2 linked regions of the Homo sapiens genome follow. The protein of the gene in region 1 purifies or fractionates together with the protein of each later gene. This does not show direct contact. Each region holds a gene or a part of one and is shown in the gene's direction. Other genes may lie near its edges. The genes, in order: SLC38A4 and TUBGCP4.

Region 1 (3,069 bases):
GGTGTACTAAATCAATTAACTATTACTCCATTGTTGAACCTGTAGGTTGTATCTCTCCACTGTATTCCTCTTCTTTCTTCAACTAGGATTCTAAATTGACTGATAGGTTAGGCCTGGGCATCTGAGATATTAAGAATAATATGGCTCAATATATAGATCAGATTGCCATATTATGTAAACAACTAAAAAACAAATTGTACTAAGTATGGTTTCTGTGCTCCTAACAGAGTCTCTCTGAATTACAGGCTTTAATTTTCCTTGTGGTTGGAATATTCTTCATGATTGGAAGCATGGCACTCATTATAATTGACTGGATTTATGATCCTCCAAATTCCAAGCATCACTAACACAAGGAAAAATACTTTCTTTTTCTATTGGAAATGGTTACAAGTTATACTCCAAAAGATATTTGAATTATCTTGATTGGAATGTTATTCATAGGAAATAACAGGAAGATTCCAAAGACGTTTACCAGTAATATCACCAGGCACCTGCAGAAGAGGAAAATCACTGTTTTTGTCAAGGATGGTTGTGTATGTGTTTAAAATAAAACCTGTGGTGCACATTTCTACCCAGGTTTTGCTAGAGCAGTGTGAGATGATGAAGGTGTATTTTTGCTGCTTTACGAGCAGAATAAGGGTAACTGCATGTAACAATCATCAGATAGTACTCTTTCCCCTGCCGTCTCCTCATCCTGCACCCCCTAAAAAAGTACCAAACATTTGCATTCTCAGAACATCAAACAAAAATGCCCTGGTGGCAAAGCTATCACCATTTAATGTCTTCTCTCAGTCTTGCACCAAAGTCTCTGGTCTGTTTACTAACAGAGGCAAAAGGCATGTCTTAGGAACTGTTTCTGTTTCTGTAAGGTACATGAATGGTCAAACACCAGTCTAGAGCATCTTATTGTCAACAGCAAAATAATATTTTGCCCACCCTGTTTGTGACATTGAGTTGTGACTTCTATATTCAATAGATTTTTGTAAATGTTAAAACATCTATATTTAAATGTTAAAACACTAAATATAGAGAGGGGCTTTATTTCAATCATAGAGCAACAACAAAAATAATGCTTATAGCTAAACTGCCTGTTCTAGAAAGCATCTGCTTTTTCATGTTATTCCTAAATCCTCTTGTCATACTTTTGTCATTGAACAATGCTCTCCCTCTCGTCTTCCATCCTCATTCAGAATTTTTAGAAGACCACAATCGTGGAGATACACTACCCAGTATTGTTTGATACATTTTTATTTGATAAACATTCAGTGCAGGAAACTGTGATTTGCTATATGTTTATGTATATAATCTTATTCTGTAGTCATCAGAATGTTAATGTAAGGTACATTTGATTTTTATTTTTTACATGTGTAGTTTTCTTTCTTCACAGTCAAAGCATTTATATTATTGGGGGTGGGGGCAGGGAATTAAGTTGGTGGGCTCGAAAATCCATTCATATGTATCTGTCTACAAATGTCTGGGGATAATTTAAATTTGAAACCTAAGTTATATATAGTTTGGCAATGCTCTTCTTCAATATTTACAATAATAGGATGATCTACAAGAAAATAAGTTTCTTTTTGCAAATTTTTATCATACTAAAGTTGTTCTTTTAATTTAGCATATCTAAAATAGGATTTAGTTCAGTTTAGCTCACACAGGTGTTTGCTGACATTCATTGGCCATTTAATACAGTGTTGAGTGGTTCTCTGTAAAAGTATAAGTGCTAACACTACGAAGAAATGCACACGATCATTCTTGCTCACTTCTATAACAAACTTACATAAAATGGATTTAAAAATTCCTACTCACAGCCTAAAACTTCTGGAGTTCACTACCTTTTTTTCAAATCATAGTAAGATCACTTGTGTATTTTATATTTTAGTAAAGCCAATTATGAAGTACAAGTATCATACACGTACTTTTGAGCTACTATTATTTGAAAAAAATCTGCCAAATAGCATCTTTAGGATATATTTACATTTTCACTCATCTAAAAAGTATACAAAAATAAAAAGTGGAAAAAGGTATCTTCTGAATGTTCAAGAGCATCCTATAGTGCCAAATAATAAAGCACCATTTTTTTCTTCATAACCAGGATTAAAATTCATATATACTGCAGGGCAGACATACATATGATAGCTTGTGCTGATTAATTTAACCCCATTTGTAAACAGATGAAAATTTTATTTTCTTATTTCATTTATAAGATGGCTCAATGTATTGGGAGGCTTCTTTTTTATTACAGAAAGTGTATATTGGTATATAATAAATGAACTTTTCAAATGACTATGATGTGATTTTTGATCTATTGTTAAAGAATGTTGTGTTATTTGTCCATGAAACAAAATTTAAAATCCAAATACTGTCTTTCTTATATTGGTTTATGTTCCATTTTCATTGTTACCTTTGACACATAACTAACATCTATAGCCATCATCCTGAAAATAATTGCCATCTTATTTTGGCAAAATAGATATTTAATCCTAAATTATTATGATGATTATAATTTTGGCATCACATATATACCACCTAGAATGAATGTGGAAGAAATGAGTCTTTTATGGTTAGTTTGAAAGAATCCATTGAAGATAGAAAATGAGAGAATAGAAGAAACCTGAGAATAGTAAAATAAAGAGCAGAGAAAATATGGGGGCAGGGAAAACATGTGAGTGCTAAGGATTGATTATGAATGAACGATTAGGGGGATTGACGGATCACAGGGTAAGTATATGCTTAACTTTATAAGAAACTTCCACATAGTTTTCCACAGTGTTTCTACCATTTTCATTTCCACCCGTACTACCTACAACTTCCACTGACTCCACAGCCCTGCCAACATTTGGTGTTGTCTTTTGCATTTTAGCCTTTCTAGTGGGTCTGAAATGGTAACTCATTGTGATTTTCATTTCTGCTTCTGTGACAACTAATGTTGAAAACTTTTCAAGTGTTTAATGGTCACTCATATATCTTCTTTTGTGAAGTGTGTATTCAAATCTTTTGCCCATTTTTAAAATTTAGGTTATGTGTTTTTATTGGGTATTTGTAGAAGCTCTTTAAATATGGATCCAT
Region 2 (3,832 bases), on another chromosome or scaffold:
TAAACATACAAAAATTAGTCGGTTGTGGTGGCGTGCACCTGTAGTCCCAGCTACTTGGGAGGCTAACGTTCTGAATCCAGGGGTGGAGGTTGCAGTGAGCTGGGATCCTACCACTATACTCCAGCCTGGGTGACAGAGTGAGACCCTGTCTCAAAAAAAAAAAAAAAAAGAAAAAAGAAAAAAAAGAAACTGCCTCTCTCTGCCATCCTCTTCCTATCTGCAGCGAACCTCCACATCAAATTGCCTTAGGATGCTGGATCTTGACTGTTCTGTGGTATTGCCATTTTATCTTAAGTTGAACTATTTAGAAACAAAAGCATTTCCCAAGTTGATTTTTTTTCCCTTACATTTGATTACATACCCTTCTAATTATTCTCTACTTTGCAGTTCCAGCTTCTTTTTCCCTCTGTGATGGTTGTAGTAGAACAAATTAAAAGTCAAAAGGTGAGAACTTTCCTTATTCCTTTTGCTTTGCTAAGCACTGAGGGAATATTACTAATTAATTTTGCTTTACATTATTTTTCGAAGACCCTAGTTTTTAGTAGTTTTTATTTATTCATTCATTTAACAATATCTGCTTGGTTATCATGTTAAGTGTCAGGAATGCAAAAGTATGACTCTGCCTTTAAACACCTCCTGGTCCAGAAGGTAGAGGAAATGTTCATAGATGTTCCCAAGAATGTTGTTGGGGTAAGAAAAAAAGTGCTGTGGATGTTTGCAGGTGAGAGGAACCTGCAGTAAGGTTTTAGAACTGTTGGGTGTGAAGCAGAAAGTTAATTCTTAGGAAGAAGGTAATAGGTTTATGGTTAGTGTGCTGGCAGTTTTCTGAGAATTTTGAGATCAGTGAGTGAAAGCCAGATGTTTAATAAATATGCCTATTCTTATCACAAGTTTTTATCAGGTGTATTGAGAAGTTAGGAGAATGTCTTTCTGGGCAGAGTTAATAAGTCTGAGGAATAAATGCTTTGAGATTTCATATTAGAAGAATCTGCTGTCCTATTGAATTGGTCCACAATTGGACCAAGTGGACAAATGGATTAAACATCTTTAGCTCAAGTCGTCATTTTTTTTAAGCTCTTTATTTGTGCCTTAGCTTATTAGGGGTGTTCATTTTCATTAATGTAACTAGTAAACCAGTTAATCTGCCACATTGCTGCATCATTTTTAACTGTGTAAGTGTAGAAACAGTGCTCTGCTATGTTCATGCTGTGCCAGCAAAGCCAGTGGTGGGTGCTCATTGGCCCTTCAAAGCTGATTGTCCTCATCAAATAACAACATCCAGCTTTTACTGTCACTGGCTGTGTACTAGGCACTGTGCTAAGTGCTTTAAATACATTATCACACACAATCCACTAAAGGGCTAAGTTGGTTAAGGGGTGTGCCCAGTGTCACACAGATAGTAGTAAATGGGTTTATATCCCAGCTCTATCTGGCTCCAAAGAGTGTGCTCTTAACCACTAGATTAAACTATCTCCCAAAATAAAAGGAGACATTCTAGGCAAATAGAGTTAATGAGGACAGCATAAGGGAGCCAGGCCTAGCTGCACGTCTCAGTTGGCCTTCAACTTCCGCTGGCTATAGGAAGGAGAGTGGAAAATAGGGGGATTGCAGATGGCTGAATCTTCCTCCCTGCCAGAATAGTGGTAGAGAAACTAGTGTACCAAGGCTCTTCAGAGTTTTTAAAATCAGGTGGTCAAAATTCTAGGTTTGGGTTGAGAATGGAGATTGATTGCAGACAGGCACAAAGGCGCTTTTTGGAGTAGTGGAAATGTTATAAAACTGGATTGTGGTAATGGTTGCCCAGTGTTTGAAATTTACTAAAAATTGTTTATTAGTATGCTTAAAATGGGTGAATTTCATTGTAAATTATACCTCAAAGTGGTAAAAATAAAAGTCTGGGGACCGGGCATGGTGGCTCACGCCTGTAATCCCAGCACTTCGGGAGGCCGAGGCGGGCGGACCACGAGGTCAGGAGATTGAGTCCATCCTGGCTAACACAGTGAAACCCTGTCTCTACTAAAAATACAAAAAAAATTAGCCAGGCGTGGTGGCGGGTGCCTGTGTCGCACTACTCGGGAGGCTGAGGCAGGAGAATGGTGTGAACCCAGGAGGCAGAGCTTGTAGTGAGCCAAGATTGCACCACTGCACTCCAGCGTGGGCGACAGAGCAAGACTCCGTCTCAAAAAAAAAAAAAAAAAAAAAAGTCTGAAGAACATAGAGGCAGAGGATTTTTGAAAAAGTATATACCTTAGAAGTAGACTGAATTGGGCCTTAACTTGAAATAAAAAGCTTTCCTTGGCTTTGGTGTTCCAACTCTAAATGATTCTGGTTGCTTTAAGTGCAGTGGTTCTCACACTTTACTGTGCATTAGAATCACCTGGAGGGCTTGTGGAAACACTGAGTGCTGGGTTCTAACCAAGAGTTTGCATGTCTGATGAGTCTCCAGGTCATGCTGCTGATGGGAGAGAGGTCCCTCTTTGAGAACCACTATGTGTAAATCTTAGGAGAAAGTTTATCCCCAGTCTCTCCTAGATTGTGCCCTCTTGGTTGAATATGGAATAAGAATGTGTCTTGCATGGACTCTTAGAATGGAATCCAGTTTGACAAGGCCGTATTTTCCACAGATTCATGGTTGTCAAATCCTGGAAACAGTCTACAAACACAGCTGTGGGGGGTTGCCTCCTGTTCGAAGTGCACTGGAAAAGTAAGTCATGGCTTAACTGGGAATTGGTGGTGGAGGTGGGTGGTCAAATTATTTGACTTCTCACATGTTTTATTTTCAGGTCATTTCAGGTTTCCCTCTTGGGAAGGTTATAACCAGGATAGAAAAAGCTCCATGAGCAGAGGAGCCCATGTAACCTTTATTATGGCTCAGGCCTTGCAAAAAGGGCTATAGAGTGTTGAGTGACAAAGCCAGGATTTAGGTGCCTGGATGACCTTGAGGCAATCTTTTTAAATGTTTAGATCCTGTTATCCTTGCAGGAATTCCATTACATGTGCCAGATGTTGCTTGCTGTGTCTAAACATGTGTATTTGAGTAGCTGGTATTTTCAAATTGAAGGTCCTTAAAAATGTTTATGCTTTATAATCCCATAATGCCACTCTTGGGAATTTTATCCTAACAAAACTATTTAATAGAAGAAAATAACTATATGCACAAACGTGTTCATTGCAATGTTGTCTACTATATCAGGAAATTAGAAAATTACCAACAGTAGAAAAAAATTTAAATGATGATATATTCACTTGATAGACTATAAAGCCACTAAAAGTGTAGGTACTATAACATGTAAACTATTTTATATAAATATGTACTGACAAATGATACAAAATTGTATTTATCTTGTGATTACAACAATATGAAAACATGTAGAGTATAATCAAAGACTGCCTGTTTGAGCTTTCCATTTATCCATTTTCCTTATTTTAAAAAAACTGTGACATTCATTGAAAAATTATAATAGATGATCCCTGAGGCCACTCACAACTCTGTTTTGTTCTTTTTTTCTTATTTTATTTTAATTTTTTGTAGAGAGAAGGCTTTGCTATGTTGCCCAGGCTGGTCTCGAACTCCTAGGCTCAACCGATATTCACATCTTGGCCTCCCAAAGTGTTGAGATTACAGGTGTGAGCCACCGCACCCGGCCACTCACAACTCTTAATCTCCACTCTAACCACTGCATGAGTAAATCCTCCAGAACATTCCTTAGGGACTTAATTCTCTATTATACTTTTGTGTATAGAATATAAAATCTAATGTAGATGATACTATATATACATGTTTGTTCTGTGTTTGCAGGGACCAAACTTTACAGACCACATACTCAGAAAT

What was found.
Region 2: the proteins of SLC38A4 (region 1) and TUBGCP4 purify together in Homo sapiens (affinity purification with mass spectrometry; one large-scale study listed by BioGRID and IntAct). This does not show direct contact.

What each region holds. Positions count from the first base shown.
Region 1 is NC_000012.12:46,763,979-46,767,047, reverse strand, and holds the end of SLC38A4 (sodium-coupled neutral amino acid transporter 4), read left to right. Parts: intron 1-245; coding exon 246-347; 3' UTR 348-2,287; downstream 2,288-3,069. UniProt on the Homo sapiens protein: Symporter that cotransports neutral amino acids and sodium ions from the extraccellular to the intracellular side of the cell membrane. The transport is electrogenic, pH dependent and partially tolerates substitution of Na(+) by Li(+).
Region 2 is NC_000015.10:43,377,460-43,381,291, forward strand, and holds part of TUBGCP4 (gamma-tubulin complex component 4), read left to right. Parts: intron 1-387; coding exon 388-444; intron 445-2,624; coding exon 2,625-2,704; intron 2,705-3,832. UniProt on the Homo sapiens protein: Component of the gamma-tubulin ring complex (gTuRC) which mediates microtubule nucleation.